Regions from separate parts of the Homo sapiens genome. Here region 1 is linked to region 2. Evidence: fine-mapped expression QTL. A gene starts in region 2. The other region holds a variant in brackets. All regions are shown on one strand. Distances are from middle to middle.

Evidence for each region. PIP is the estimated chance that this variant, and not a neighbour inherited with it, causes the effect.
Region 1: its variant is the best candidate, but not a certain one, in a credible set for the expression of PPP1R14C in fibroblasts (GTEx, PIP 0.75).

Annotation. Positions count from the first base shown.
Region 1 is chr6:150,266,659-150,274,989 of GRCh38, reverse strand. LOC105378054 (a long non-coding RNA gene) reads right to left here and starts at 5,578. Exons shown (of 3, transcript XR_943109.3): 1 at 5,020-5,578. RefSeq lists an enhancer at 900-1,400 and a cis regulatory region at 2,599-3,631. The variant T/C (reference allele first, on the strand shown) is at 5,060.
Region 2 is chr6:150,139,340-150,147,670 of GRCh38, reverse strand. PPP1R14C (protein phosphatase 1 regulatory inhibitor subunit 14C) reads right to left here and starts at 4,627. Exons shown (of 4, transcript NM_030949.3): 1 at 4,173-4,627. The coding sequence starts at 4,478.

The DNA.
Region 1 (8,331 bases), 130 kb before region 2:
CTTTCGCTCAACAGCCTCCCCACTTTCCTCCTTAGGTGATGCAGGAAATTCACGTGCATCCTGGGTTCACATGATCCAGAATCACGCGTCTCCACCCTATATCCTCCCAATAGGTTCCAAGTCGAATCTCTCCACGGCCTCGCCATCTGCCTGCAGCCTTGTCCATATAATTCCACAGCACCTTCAGATGTCTTTTTCCACAGTGCCATGAAGTGGAAATTAGGAAACACCAAGATTATTCTGTCACAGACATATTTGCTAGCCTTCTCTTTAACTGATTGACACGGGGGAAAGTGCTTTCAGTTAGCTTGCTATAGAGTGGGACAAGAAAGCCACGTAGTCATAAACATGTGCCTTTTAAAAATCAAATCCTACAACCAGTACGAGCCTGATGGATGCAACGTCAGCGACTGCTCAATGGCTTCTCTCTGGAAGGTGCTTTTTGTCCCCAGGCGGCTGAAGGTCATAGCATTAATCTGTTCTCCAAACCCTCAATCTTAGGCCCCTCTCCTCCCTTCTGGTTTCTTTCTTTCCCAGCTCTGTTTCCTGGATGCTCTGACTGTCAGCAATAACAAGGACAAAGGTAGGGCAAGGGACCTAAAAGGACGAAGGAGTGTGGAGGAGGAGGAGAAGCGCTGGGGTGGCTGTTTCACCTTCAGCACACACTCCAGGCTGCTCTGACGGAAAGACCCAGGAAGGCCATTCATTGCAGACTTTTCTCACCCTGCCAAGCTGGACAGCTCGAGAACAGGCCATGGAAGTGGTTTCTCCCCTGAGACCATCATTTCAAGACCTATTTGCCCTTTGAGGCTACCCACGTGTGACCCTGGGAGATGTGTGTGGCTATATTTCACCTCAAACCCTAACCTCAGCAGCTGTGCTGTTTGGTTGCTCAGCCGCGGAGCAGCAGGTGGCCTTCTGCTGTTACCCATGAAGGGGTCAAGCTAGGCCAGGCCTGCTGGGAGCCCAGTGAAGATTTACTGGCAGTGATGCCTCCAACACTTCTTTCTCCAGAGCGAGAGCAACAGCAGGTGAGGCATCCATGACCAGCCTGTCACTTTCCTCGGGGAAAGAGAAAGGAAGCCATATGCTGACCTTTCGTGTGCAGAAGTAGCACAGTCAGAGCATATGTCCAGGAGCTGCAGAGACGCCATACGCATAGCACAGCCTTTGTCCAAACACTTTTCCAAGAATAAAAAGACTTCATTAATGCAATGCACTCCCTCACACCCCCCAGACGCCAGCTAGCCTCTTGATGATTTCACCGGCCAGTTTCTTTGTTGTCTGGAGAAGGTTGTGGGCTCTTCTGTCTATCTTCCAGATAGTGGAGGCCAGATGGGCAATAGACTAAGAATAGGGGCTAGCACTGCAGCAGTTTTGTTAAGCTAGCTATACAAAATAGAACTTTCTGGCTGGACACAGTGGCTCACGCCTATAATCCCAGCACTTTGGGAGGCCAAGGCGGGAGAATTGCTTGAGCTCAGGAGTTTGAGACCAGCCTGAGCAATAAAGCGAGGCCTCCATCTTTACAAAAAAAGAAAAAGAAAAAAAATTAGCTGGGCATGGTGGTGCATACTTGTGATCCCAGCTACTAAGGAGGCTGAGGCAGGAGGATCACTTGAGCCCAGGAGTTTGGGTTGTAGTGAGCCATGATTGCACCACTGCACTCCAGCCTGTGAAACAGGGTGAGACCTTGTCTCAAAAGAATAAAAAATAAAAATTTGTTGATGGAGTAATGAATATTGCAGTGGAAAGCAATGATATTGTCCAAGGTTGAGTCTCTGCAAGAGAATAGATCTGTATCTGCAAGATGAGGGCCTCGATCACATGTATGTAGATGTGGACAGACAGGCTGACTCATGCTCAGGTTGTTTTTAAACGCCTGTGGCTTTAGGGGGAAAAAGACAAAAAGAAGGAAAAGTGCCCAGATTTGACAGTGTGTGGTACAAGTTTAGGTGAGTTTTTTCTTTCTTCCTACAGGATAGATTTTCCAATATTCCTATAGGATAGATTTTTCCAGTCTCCTATGGCAAGCGTTTGTTACCATCATAATCAGAAAGAAGATGACACAGTGTCCCAACACTGGATTTACTATAGTCTACACCATGCAAATGAATTAACTCAGTGTCAGATGCCTCATCAAAGGTGGGGGAGAACAGGCATGGTTGAGTCATTCCCACAAATCAAGCAGTTGGAATCCATGAAGAAACTGTCTTCCACAGCATCAGAGCACCTTCCGCCAGGAACGTGCCTGAACCCGCCTGGCCCTGGAGGTAAAGTTTAGAAGCAGAGACTGGTTAGGAACCAACCAGCCACACTGAGACACCAGCTAAACGCCGGTTTCCATAAACCTCTTTAGGAGCTTAGGAACTTCAATTTTATTGACCATCAACCATCCAGTCTTAGATAAAGGGTCAGGGAGCAACATTTGAAGAGGAAGAAAGGGAGATGAATGGGCTCCCTCTGGCCCATTCGATTCTGTGCCTCTGACCCAGAAAACTGGTCATTGTCAGCTCTTCTCTTGGGGCTTGCCCCAGCCTGGATTAGCAAATCATTTCTGCAAACTGTGAATGCCTTGAGTACAGATTTGCTGGGATGTGGGGTTTGGGGAGGAAGGTAGAGTAGAGGATGTGTGCTCAGACCTTTCTGGGTAAATATATTAAATCATGTCTGTTTAAAATAGAAAGCTAGTGAGAATGTTCCCTCTTGCCAGCTTCCAGCATTGATCTTTCAGGGCATACACTGAACAAGGAATATCTAGGTCTTCTTCAGGGCAGCCAGTATTTTTACCAGGGCAGCCCTGATGACGTCACTGGGAAAGTTCCTTTTTCTATTTTCTTTTAGTCCCTTTATCTACAGGCACAGCTGCTTAATGAAACCAGAAGGCCTGGGATGGCACCAGAGCTTACTGACCACTGACCAAAGAGCAGAGGAAGATAAGATGCCACAAAACCAGCACAAACCGGAATAGATGACCCTTAGTTGCCTTCAGATCATTAACATATCATTATAATGCTAAAATTTCCTCCCCCAAAGGAAAATCTCCACCATTTTGTGTACAGGTGATATATGAACATATATATTTATGAATTAGGCATATCTGGAGTCCCGCCCTGCACATGCAAACACGCTTCTCTCGCCCTGCACCTGGTCCTTAAAACCCCACACCTTCTATTGTTTGGGAAGAAGCTACCTTTCGAGTGAGAGCCACCTTCTCCATTCCTTGGCTAGTGAATAAAGCCTGATTGCTTTTTCCAGCTGGATGTTCTTTTTTTGTGACTGACACAAAGTGGTGAAAAAACCCAGTTTATCAGTGACAATATGGCAGCTCTTTATCTATCCCAACCTTCTGCTAAGGGCTTTCTTATATTGCAAACTGAATATCCCAGACTCTCCTGCAACTGAGGTTTCCTTGTGATTGTGAATGGCCACCCAAAGGCCCTCATGCAGCCTTGAATTAGGAACTCATTTAAGTAGAAAGGGAGGCAGGGCTCACAGGAAGCTTTGTAGCCAACAGGTTTGGTGTTAGCTTTTGATCCCTGGATCACAGCTGGGTCAGCGTGTTCCTGGAACTAGCATTTGCAATGGCTTATTCCTGGTCCTTGGAGTGTGGCTAAGGAGTAGGACCCTGGAGCCCTGTAATGGTGCAGTGGCTTGCTGATCCCCAGATTTCTGGAGTTCCTGGTCACTACACCATTGGGAAAACTAATCTGCCTCTCTTCCTCTAGAGAGCTCAGAAAAATAAAATAGTTATCTTGGGAGCAAAGTGGGGTTTGGAAGGCTTTGAGATATATATTTAATCCACTCAATCTCTATGTTTCTTCATATAGAGTAGTGTATTTGATCAATGAAAAGGCCTTGTCAGCAGCTGATCTGAATATACTAAGAACATGGATAAATATTAATACCAAACTAGTGCAGGGAGACACATGGCTCTTAAACGAACGGAGATTTTTCTAGTTGGAATTCAATGGGCCTTGCTTTCAAAACAGACTCCTCTCTCATGCACCTGTGAGTCTCTCCCAGGGACTCTTGGGACTCTTCCTAGACGTCATTTATTCATCTGGATGCTCCCAAGACAGAAATGCCAGGCGCATGGGGAAAGCATTGTTAGATCAAGTTTAGCCTAAAGCTGCCTCCTTACATTTTTAAGTTCAGCCAGGTTTCTCTGTACATGGTGAACTGTAATCTAGCTGGCTGTACACAACTATAACCTTTGTGCCAAGCGCTGAGTTTCAGCCAATCACAGGTGGCCAAGTGTTTGAACCATGTTCAAATAAGGCAAATGCAGAGCTGTAACCCATCCTGCTGTTTCTGTACCTCACTTCCGTTTTGTTTGTCACTTTTCTTTCTCTATTCATAAATCTTCTTTGACCATGTGGCTGGGCCAGAGCCTCTCTGAACCTATTCTCATTCAGTGCTGCCCGATTTGAGGTTTGTTCTTTGCTCAATGAAACTCTGTTAAACTTAATCTGTCTAAGGTTTTTCTTTTAACAGCATTGCAACTCTCTGATGCCATCAGACAGTCATTCATCACATTCTGCCGATTGTCAGCCTTCAGAGGAGAAGGATGTTGTGGACTTGCTTGTGTGCCAAGGCTGAGGTGGGCCCCATGCCCACTGCGCCTTTAGATGTCCAGCATGCCTCCCCTTACACAGCACTCGACACACCCATGGGAGTCTCACAACCATCCCAGACACATTACTTCCCTCATTTTTCTAATGGAAAAAAGAAACGAACTAACCAAACAACAGCAAAACCCAAGTCCAGAGTTAAATACCTTGGCCAAGGTCACACGGCTAGGTAGATTCAGAATCTGTCAACTCTTTAGCCACCCCCACTTCCTGCAGGATAAAGTCGAACTGCTTAACTTTTGTGCAAAGCCCTTCATGATCCAACCATCCAGCTTCCCCTCCCCCTCACTGGCCACCCCCCTGCAGGCTCCAGCCCTGCTGGAGTCACTGATGTCTGAGACTCACTGTGCCCATTCTCAGCCAGACGCTTGACTCATGCCATTACCTTTGCTACATCATCCTCCTCCCACCTCCAACTCCACCTA[T/C]GCCTCCTCATGACTCATGCCACTCAGCCTTCGGGTCCCAGCACCTCATTACTTTCATTGGTCAGTCCATCCACAGGCATTCTGCTAGGCTTATTCTGTGTGCATGGTACCAGGTGCAGGGAAGGCAGCAGTGAATGAGCAGACCTGCCCCTATCCACCAGAGCTTCCAGCTCAGTAGGAGATGCAGTTAAATGGCCAGTGCTGAGATGTTGTAACAGGCATTGTGACAGAATAAGAACAGGGTGTGTACAAGTCACGGCTCTCCAGGGAAACAACCAATAGGACGTGTGTGTGTGCAAATAAAGCGATTCATTATAAGGAATTGGTTCACGTAATTATAAAGGTGGGCAGGTCCCAAGATCTGCAGAGGGAGTCTGCAAGCTGGAGACCCAGGAAGAGTGGAGTGGATCCTTCAGTTCGAGTCTGAAGGCAGGAAAAAAAGCTGATGTCCCAGTTTGAAAGCATCCAGGCAGGAGGACTTTTACTCACAGGAGGTTCAGCCTTCTGTTCTCTTCAGGCCTTCAGCTGATTGGGCGAGGCCCACCTGCATTGGGGAGGGCAATCAGCTGTCCTCAGTCTCTTAATTTAGATGTTAACCTTGTCCAAAATCATCCTCACAGAAATACCCAGAATAACATTGACCAAATATCTGGGCATCCCATGGCCCAGTCAAGTTAACATAACATTAACCATCATAGGGTGCTGTGGGGACACACAGCTAGAACTCCAACTTTGGAAATGCTTTCATGATCTCCCTGCCCCCACAAGACTCCATCCAGTGTTATTTCCCTGTTTCCACAGCCTCATCACAGGCCATATATATCTTACCATATCATATTATCATATCATCATACCATATCATATCATCATATATCATTATACCAGATCATATAATATATCATATCACATTACCATATCATATCCTCATATCATTTCATATAATCCCAGCTGGCTTGTCTCTCTCTCCCACTGCACTGTGAACTCCTTGATGTCTTTGCAGACAGACCAACCTCGGAATCAGACCAACTCTGATTCCAAGACCTGAAGACCTTACTCTGGAATCAGACCAACTGGCTAACATCCTGGCTCTCCTGCTCTTAGCTGTATGCTTAAGCAACTTCTTTATGACCTGGAACCTCAGTTTCCTTCTCTGTGAAAAGGGACAGTAGCAGTACTAGTACCCACCAGCCTCACTGGAATGTTGTGGGAATTAAATGAAGTAATGTATATGAAGCACTTAGTGCTGAGCTGGCCATCGTAGCTCCTCAGGAAATATAAGCAATTGCTCTCATTCCCTGCTGAACTCCAGCCTCAGCACACCTCCCTGCCTAACAGAATCTTGATTAAATGCCCACAGCACTACTCTGTCCTGCCAGTAACTGGATGTGTCTGTACCCAACAGAGACTCAGCACTTCATCCTTCCAGAACTCTGCTGGCACTGCACAGTTCCCTACAGACAGGCTCAGGGGAAGGGAATGTGTCTGATCATGTCTGCAGGAAGAGGGTGACAAGATGGTCAGACATTTGTGGAAAGCTGGCGGGGGACTTAGAGCAGCTGGCCCAAGAACTGTTCCCAGCAGGGGCAGAACCAGTCATCTTTAGTGACCTGCGCCATCTGGCTTGATCTTTAGTTAACAGCAAGGCTGACTTCAATCAGGCAATTGATTTCTGGCCAATCTCTTTCAAAAGGAGGAGACCTCAGGACAACTCGTGCTCAGGCATTTGATCTCACTTCAAGGAGAAACATTGCAGAATGGATCCACAGTGGGTAACTCCATCTTTTCCCATCATTACGGATTTTGCTATCTTTCTAAGAACTTTGGAACCAGCTCCTTGAACACTCTGAACTCAGTGTTGTACACATGGAAGGGTTCTATTGTTCTCCCACGCTCTTCCACCGGAGGCTATGGCACAAACGGGCCCTGCCTTTTACTAGCCTCTAGGCTCTGTGTATCTCAGTAACTGCATCTACATGATATAGTGACAGTTGCCTCCCTATACATTTCAGGGTGATATCTCAGGAAATGATGTTTCATCCAATGGAGCCGCGGGTGAAGATGTGTGGGCGGGCATGCAGCATTCCATAAGTGCTGAGCTGGAGTGTTGCACCGAGGGACTCAGCCCAAAGTCCTTGTATAACCCAAAGTCAGTTTTACATGGAAATAAATGCAAGGAAGGGAAATAACTTCTCAGAGTGTGTACATCAACAACCATGTAATAATGCTTTGTAAAAATTATTTTGGCAGTGTCTCTGATATTTCACGGAGCCTCCTCTCCTCTGAAGGTAATAGCATAGTGTGTGTCATGGTTTTGGCCTTCATCATAGTTTTTTTATTTCTAGTTTTATTTCCAACCCATATTTTCCCACTAGCATCACCAACTAAATGAGGGCTTATTGTAAGATATAAAAAAGATATTGAAATATAACAACAGTAAATGTTAAAATAACAGCACATGGCCCTCAACATTAGTCAGCTGGAGTCCTCTGCACATAAATACCTTGAAACCAGGAATTTATTCACCAGTTAAAGGGCATTACTTTGGGGCCAAGATATAAGCACAGTTTACAGTTTACTGGGCCCAGTATGAAAGCAGGGTGTTATAGGTTGAACTGGTTACCCCCAAAAGATGTTAAAGTTCTAACCCCTAGCACCTGTGAATAGGACCTTATTTGGACATAGTGTCTTTATAGATGATCAAGTTAAGACGAAGTCATCAGGAAGACTCTAATCCAGTATGACTGGCATCCTTACAAGAAGGGGAAATTTGGACATAGAGACAGACACTTATAGAGGGAAGACGATGTGAAGACACGGGGAGAAGACAGCTCCCTACAAGCCAAGGAACGCCTGAGGCTAGAAGCTCAGGGAGAGGCATGGAACAGATTTTCCCTCAGAGCGCTCCGGGGGAACCAACCCTGCCAACATCTTAATCTTGGGCTCTGGCTTCCTGGACTATGAGACAATAAATTTCTGTTGTTTAAGCCACCCAGTTTTTGCTACTTCGTTTATGGCAGCCTGCAAACTAATACACTAGGCTAATCATGATTGTTTTAATTTGGAGGGATTCTTTTCCAGAAGGCAAAATCTTATTAATTATATATTTATCAATCTACTTCCAATGTGTACAATTATTCCTGGTAACCCAGGAATCTGGAAAATATCTGAGGAAGAACAATCTGTGAAGTCTGGATTTCCTACAAGTGAAGAATGTGGGGCTCAACACAAAAGAATTTAGGGCATATGTGTACATGATAATAGGAATAATAGCT
Region 2 (8,331 bases):
GCAATCATCTGAGCTTAGCAACATGTTTTTATTTCCAAAGCAAATTGAATTGCAAAACTGGAAGTACAGATGTTATCTTGATGCTGGGCAAACTTGGAAATATTCATATGACTTATCCAGTAAGTCATCTTGCAGTACTTGTTAAAGTAGATATTATGCCAGATTTCAAATGCTCTTAAAAACCACCAGGGTTGGCTGGGCGCGGTGGCTCATGCCTGTAATCCCAGCACTTTGGGAGGCTGAGGCAGTCGGATCATGAGATCAGGAGTTCGAGACCAGCCTGGCCAACATAGTGAAACCCTGTCTCTACTAAAAATACAAAAATTAGCCGGGCATGGTGGCACGCATCTGCAGCCCCAGCTACTCAGGAGGCAGAAGCAGGAGAATCGTTTGAACCCAGGAGGCGGAGGTTGCAGTGAGCTGAGATTGCGCCACTGCACTCTAGCCTAGGCCACAGAGAAAGACTTCATCTCAAAAAAACAAAAACAAAACAAAACAAAAAAAACCCACCAGGGTTTGGAAGAGATTAAAAAAAAAAAAAAAAGGTCTTTAAACAGAAATCCTTAAATGTGGATGTAGATGTAGATTTAGTCTAATGGTTACATTATAATCAAATTCCTAGCTGAAAATGTACCTGTATAAGCCTTCCCAAGAGAAGATGAGATGGAAAAGAACTATAAGCACATAACAAATCATTTTGGAATCCAATAAAAGCACTTATCTACGTATTCAAAAGGCTATTTGACGTGGTATTTTACAGTGCTGCCCTTAGACTGGGTAAGAGGGGACCACATCTCCGGGCCCCACTCCTGCCATAACCTGTCTTCCTGAAGACTTCCTAGGACAAAGTGGACACATCTATCCAGAACCAGTGCCCCTCCACTTGGTTTTAGTCTGTGATCCGGGTCCCCAGAATTCCCTTCTCAAATCCCAAGTAGCTTCTAGGGCATGAACAAGCTCCTCCCAGATCTGTTCTGGCCTAGGGGGACATCACCACTGGTGTGTGCAGAGGCATCATGGTCAAGGAGTGGCAGGTGCATACCAAGACTGGGCGTGCGAGTGGACACAGTGTCCTTTACCAGGTGGGACTGTACCAAGGATGGGAAGCAAAAGGGAAGAAACCCAGGCCAGGGCAGTCTCCTAACTGCATTTCAGTTCATGACTCTGGGAAGTAACATTTTGAATTCAAAATGCAAACCTAGACTTCAAGGTCATTATGAAGATGTAGCTGTCAAGATCAGTGGACAGAAGAAATTTTATACAAATGTTGTTAGTTTAACTCATAAGTTTTAAACATTTAGACAGATGTCTTGTAGACCTACATTTGCTCTCTTGCACGGTACAGACAGGCCTCATGGGTATACAGTGGACTCAGATTCCAGACTGGGTTCATCCTCAACCCCAACCCACCCACCAGCTACATGAGCTTGAAGCAGCCTTTTAATCCTCTCTGAGTCTTCACTTCTTTATTTACATTTAAACAAGGATAAAAAGAACATCTTCTTTATAGGGTTGTTATGAAGACTAAATGAATTAGCCCAAAGTACCTAGAAGAGCACCTAGTCACCTAGTAGGTAGGTAATAAATTCCCCTATGACATTATTCTCATACAAAACTGATTAGTCACTGCACACTTCCAGAAAAAAACACAGACAGAAAGTGGTTCTGTGTATTTCTTCTTTCCTCTTCCTCTTTCTAAATACATCACTTTACACTGCTCCAAAAGATTATTTTCTATTCTGAAAAGGTCAAGTCATCTGATTCCTAACCTGCTTGGGTCAAGTTCTTCTGAAATTAAAGATGTGTTCATATTCTACCCCAACTCAGCAGATAACTCAAGCCTTTGGCAGGTTTGAGGTTTGAAGGCTGGGAAATTGGCTGTGTCACTTTCATGGGCTAAACATTTGAAAGAATTACCACTTTTAAGTATAAAAAGGACATTTCCTAATCTTCGTATGCATGAAGTTCGGAGCTGTAAGCTAGGGTGCGTCCTTCTTGATTCACAAACCAGAGGCTGAAATACTTGAAGCTATCAACAAAGAAAGGTTACTCAACAAGAGAACCCAATGCTAAAAATAGAGCACTATCAGCAGAGAAATAGATGCAAAGAGACAAGCCTTTATTTGGCTACTTATTTGCCCATGTTTCTTTATTATTAAATGGAGGTACACCACCAGCATAGTGATTACAAATTGCCAACAACCTAATTATTTCTCTTCCTTCAGCCTACAATGACTGAACAAACAACTTGAAGAAAAATACTTGCCACGTTAATGACATGCAGGCAGCATATAGAGCATCTTGAATTATTTCACCACAAAAACCTCCCTTTCAAATGTCTAGCTGTTTGCTACGGGTTGAAGATTTAAAACCCAAGAAGAAAAGTACAATACAAGGAAAAGATTCAAGCTCATGTTTACCCTTTAAAATATATACCTAACCTACATGTTCCACACAGGAAACAATCAAACCTCCATTTTTTCTAATTATTCTGAAGTATTTTTTAAATATATTGTTTATCAGGCTACTCAGTGGGTAGAGCTCTTTCTAGCTTCCCAATCTAAGCCTAATTAGTCTCCCACAAAAAGAACCATGCTGGTGCACTGTTAATTTCAACAATGCTTTTTCTATTAATTCGAATCTTTTCCAAATCCCAAATGGAGAAAAAAAAAACAGTATGAAATAAATGAAAATTAACTGGATTCTACAGAGGCAGGACTGAGCACATCCACTCATCCAACAGTAATCCCATCTACATCAAATAATGTTTCTTTACAGAGTTTTGCCAACTTCCTATAAAAATCTCATGAATACTTCTTATGTTTGCCAGTTTTTATTTATGCAATTAAATTAGCTTTTTGTAAGAGCTGGACTGGAGAAACAACACATTTTTACAACCCCATTAGTCATACAGTCAAGCTTCATTATATTATAATCATTTATCAGTAGTCAGTAACGAGTATGCTGTTTTCTTGTGCAATGAGGGTGTTTAAGAAAACGTGTCTTCACAACAGGCCATGAAATGTGTCAAATACAGAACACCCGACATTAGTGGTAAAGCCTGTGAGTTCATCTGGTTGTCATCTCTGTTGAAGAGCACAACAGTTGAATGAACACAAACCTAGCTTTAGCTTAGAAGCCACATTCTTAATTATTAACCCCTTCATGCTTCCACCCTTTCCAAACTCCACTCCCTTAAGAGGAGGTCACTTCATTTAGAATTAATAACTGTTATTCAAGATGCTCATGAGAGATCATTTTGGCTTCAGTCGTTTTGCTGCAGTTTATTCTACATATTTCTCCCTAAATCAAATGTATACACGTCCCTGAGACTTGTGTATGACCTTAGTCCCTGGACCTTGGGAAGTCACGATGTCGTGGAGGAGAGGGGAGCTGGGAGCCTGAAGCTGACAGATCCCGGGATCCCGCAGGCCCCCCGCAGGGCTCCCGCCCTTCCACCGAGGCACCCGTCGAGGTTGCCCCAGATGCTCATTCTGCGCCCATCAATGGGAGTAACTGAGCTTAGAGAGGAAAAACTACGGCTTCAACAAAGCACAACGTGTGCAGCTCTGATAATGCAGGGCGGAATTATGGAGACACCGTCGGGGCTGGCTGGAAAGCGGAAAGCGTTCCATCTCAGGATTTTCACGGGGAATTTCAAGAACCAAGGGGGCCTCTGAGATCCCCAGAACCTCTCCTTTCCACGAGGCAGCTTCCTTCCTTCCCTGCTCGTTCTCCACAAAAATCAGGGCTGCCCGGATCCCAGCAGTGAGCGCTGCTCTCTTTGGCTGCTGTATCCCCAACCGCTGCTGAGGCGCAGCTGGAGTGAGCCCCTCCGAGCCCCGCTTTGCGCAGCTGCAGCTGGAGCCCAGAGGCGCCCGGAGCTCGGAGAAAAGCACTGTGCTCCGCGGGACCCAACCCTCCCCACGGCCACCAAGGGGGCCCGCAGATCCCCGGGCACCGGCAGCCGAACCCAGACAGGGGCGTCCCAACCGCTGAGCCCGACGCCAGAGGGCACCGCGGGGGAGAGAAGGCGCCGCGCCTCGCTCCTGGCACTTGGTCCCCGGGAGTCAGGGACATGCGCGCCCCGGAGCTGGAGCCCGGGAAAATTACTGCGCGGGCACAGAGGAGCTAGAGAGGTCCCCGACCCTCCCAGCCCCGCGCCCAGGTACCTCGCAGCCGTAGAGCTGACCCAGCTGCTCCACGATCCATTCCTCCAGCACCAGCCGCTTCCGAAGCTCCTTACGATCGTATTTCACTGTCACTTTTCCCTGCTGGTGTCGCCGCTGCTGTTGCTGCTGAACCTGCCCTGCAGCGGCCGCCGTGGCCACGGGCGCCGAGTCCTCCCGGGAGGAGCCTGAGCCGCTGCTGGAGCCGGGGCTGCCACCGGCGCCACCCCGGGGGCTTTGGAAGAAAACCCGTGCGCCGCCGCCGCTGGCCCCGCCGGCCGTCTCGCTGCTGCCCGTCGCCACCGACATGTCCCCGCGCGCCCGAGCCTCAGTGCGGCCCGGAGGAGGGGCGGGCGGAGCGCGCCCGGCGCCGCTACCACCTCCGGCCCGGCAGCCGCATGCGAAGGGCTCCCCGGCACCTGCTCTGCGCCGCGCGCGCCCAGCCGCCCGGCTGCTCTGGGAGGGCGGGAGGAGCCGCGGCGAGAGGGAGGAGGGCGGGGAGGACGACGGGGCGGGGACCGCAGCCTTAAAGAAGCCGCCGAGGACCCTCTCGGTCCAGCCCCCAGAGGCGGGATCTGGCGCCTGCGGCAGAGAGGGCCCGGGGCGTGGGAGTCTCCGCGGGGCGGGAAATGTGTGCGCCTAGACACGGGAGGTCGCCGATGTGTAGACTCCGGAAGGACGGGCGTGGGGCGGGGTGCCAGGGGATGCTCCTGCGCGGGTGTCCGTGGCCTCTAGTCTCGGAGACAGGGACTCACGCTTCTCCCGCAATCCCGGAGCGCAGGAAACGCGCCGCCTCTCGGGGCCTCCACCTGGCGCGGCCCCGGGCAGGACCCGCAGCGAAGGGGACACAGGAAAGGACCGCGCCGCAGGCTCCCCCAGGAGGTTTTCCTAGCCCCACCGTCTCCTCTGTTGGCTGGGTAGCGTCCCCTCCCCTCCAGCCCCGCCCCACGGCTCCAAACACACATTCCTATTCATGCCACGATGGATGCCACTTCCTCTCTGGATTGTGAGAAACATCGAAGAGGCGATGTTTGTGCAATAAGGCAGTCACGGCGCTTGAGAAATTATTTCCAGACCAATGTTTTCTTTCCTTACTAAGCGTCTGCTTAATCATGGGCACAGCATTCGGATATCTTCGTATCCAAAGGGCAGAAAGCGTGACGGCGCTCAGGCAAGGCGTCTGGGGGCATCCAGACAGTAAACATTTCTCTAAGAGGGTCGGCGACAGGGTCCTGGTTTCACATTTCTAGTGTTGCGTCCCGTGCACTGCCAGCTTTCTCTCCATCCCATTCCAAACAGCCCCTTCCACCCAGGAGGGCAACAGCACTGCCTGACTCTACTGCAAAACATCACAGCCTAGTAGTTACACATGAAGGAGCTTCTCAGAAGGGTTAGGACAATAAGGTGGGGAGGGAAGTTGTAAACAGAAAACTGCATGTGTAAAATTAGGGAGACACTAACATATTCTTCTTGTACACAACAATACATTCCTGTTCAGGAACTGATAGAAACCACAGAGACGTCCGAATGAATACAAGTAAGCGGCTTTTAGTAACGGTTTTGTTTTGTTTTGTTTTTTGAGACGGAGTCTCTCTGTTGCCCAGGCTGGGGAGCAGTGGCGAGATCTCGGCTCACTGCAACCTCTGACTTCGGGGTTCAAGCGATTCTCCTGCCTCACCCTCCTGAAGAGCTGGGATTACAGGCTTTCGCCACCACACCAAGCTAATTTTTGTATTTTTAGTAGAGACAGGGTTTCACCATGTTGGTCATTCTGGTCTCGAACTCCTGACCTCATGATCCGCCCGCCTGGGCCTCCCAAAGTGCTGGGATTACAGGTGTGAGCCACCGCGCCTGGCCATGAACTTTTTTTGTTTGTTTGTTGTTGTTGTTGTTTTTAAATAAAAGAGCCCTAAAGGTTACTGGCAGCTACTCAAAGAAGTTTCTCAGAGATAAAATAGATACCAAGTCAAATTCCTCGGAACACTTTCCTATGATGGAGAAGATCCTGTGTGGGGTTCTAGACTGACACTACAAAGACAAAATAAAAGTAACCAGCAGGTTTCTCCTGGCGCTTCAGGCTCTGCGATCCACCAGCGCCCAGCTCTGCTCTACCCAGGCTTAGGATCCATTGCCTTTGTACCCTCAGTCTGGGGTTTTCCAGTGAGAGCCTGAATAGGGATTTTCCCAAAGTGTTCCATGCCTGCGGCTCTTCACAGGGACATGTCAAGCCTCACAATGTGAAGGGGAAGGATCTGCGGAGATTGAAATAGGGTGGCTGGTGTGGGGCCCTGGACTCCTGCCATAATTACAAAGGGGTCAAAGCTGAACGATCTCTGCCCCGCTAGAAGAGGCCAGCTGCCCTTTAGAAGATGGGTTTTGCACCGAGCCTATCAGGGACAAGGGAGATGAATTACCTTGATTGCCCCTAGAGACCGATGACCAGTCTCTGCACCACCTCTGCCCCTCTGCCTTTAGGGTGGGTCACTGTAAACCCCGAACACACAGCCAAGAGAGTGACCACCTCAAAATGGAACTCTGTCTGCAAGGAGGAAGGGAAAGGAGGGCAGGAACCAGCCCCAGCATCTCCCACACAGAATCAGCTTATATGGCTCCAGACATCTGGCCAAGTCCGCTAGCACCAGCTTTGACCAACTGCACTAATCAGGAGAATGCAAATCAGAACGAAAACAGCTTAAATGTTATTAACAAAGGAGAAACTACATAAAATCTCTACCTCATTCTGGCCCTGGGACCTGACAATACCTATTGTGCCATCCCACAGTTTGGCAAAGTCTGGGGAATTCCAACTCCTTTCTTTAAGTCTTTGGACAACGAAATCAGTCATTCAAGGATAACGTCAAATAATTTTAAAAAATTCACTAAGTTCTTTCTGAGAAATTCTGATGTCAATTTTTTTCTCACAGCATAAGATGCTTTTTCCTTTATGCTTAAAACTCAATTTTCCCTTACAACTCCAAAATGACAGATACTAAAAGACATGGGTTTTAAGCATCTTGACTCACAGAAGAAAATCCAGGAAATAGTCTCTTTCCACAGGTACGCTGGCCTTCAGATGTTCAAGTGAGTCACCTTGACTGGCAAATAGAATTGAACCAGGGTTCCTCTTTCTTTAAATCCATTTGCTCCACCCAGTACGTAATTTATATTCAAAGTGAAGTCCATATCATCTCCTCTACCCCCAGACACACACACTTCATTCCAGGTTTGAATAATCAAAACTTAATGGCCTCATTTTGACAGATAGAAATACTGCTTTTGCAGATTTCAAATATTGAAGCCAAAATATTTAGGAATAAAGGAATTTTTCCTAGTCCAGAGACCCTTTACATAGCTGACTATTTAAATTCGGCAAAACCAGTGGTATTTCTCATCTACAAAACCAATAATATATACATTTATTCAAGGAAAACATTTTTATTTCTAGCCTATTTAGTCAAGTGTTTTTAGGTGCTGGTTAATCTAAGACAGTGAATAGCTTTCAGTGAATTGAATGGTCCGGAATCAACTTTTACCTGAAGGCAATTACTCCCTGCTATGAGAGGGCAGCCTAAGGATGTTTCATTTGAATCTTTTTCTTCGTAGTTTTGTGTTTTCTTAGCTTGGTTATGTTTTACTTGCTTCCCAAATTGGACAAAGTTTTTTGTTTGTTTGTTTAGGAATTATATAGGTCCTTTATCTCTGAATATGATCTTTATGCCCAAAGGTTGTTAGACAGGATGGATGACTTAATCAGGAGTCCTGGAACTTTTGTCACCCCCCAGGAAAATAATTAAATACACATGTTTATACTCAGATGCAAATTTCCTTAAACGGCACAATAATTATGCAACACCTGGTAATCTACTTTGACAATGTTATAATTGCATCCTGGAGACCCACAAACCTGAACATAATCTTCTTATCTTGAGTAATAAATGTCAAATGATAAGATGCCTATATCCGAATCCTCTCCAAGATTTGATGAAGCAAAAAGACAAATTAAAAATTATTTTCAGTCTGGTTTTCATTATAAATGTTGAAGAAACTTAATCTGTCTTTCAGGATTCCATTGGTTACCCACAGCATTTTCCATTTTCATTCCAATATTTCATTGTTCTTTACAGAGTGATAACAGCACAGCTGTTGACAGTATATCAGTGAA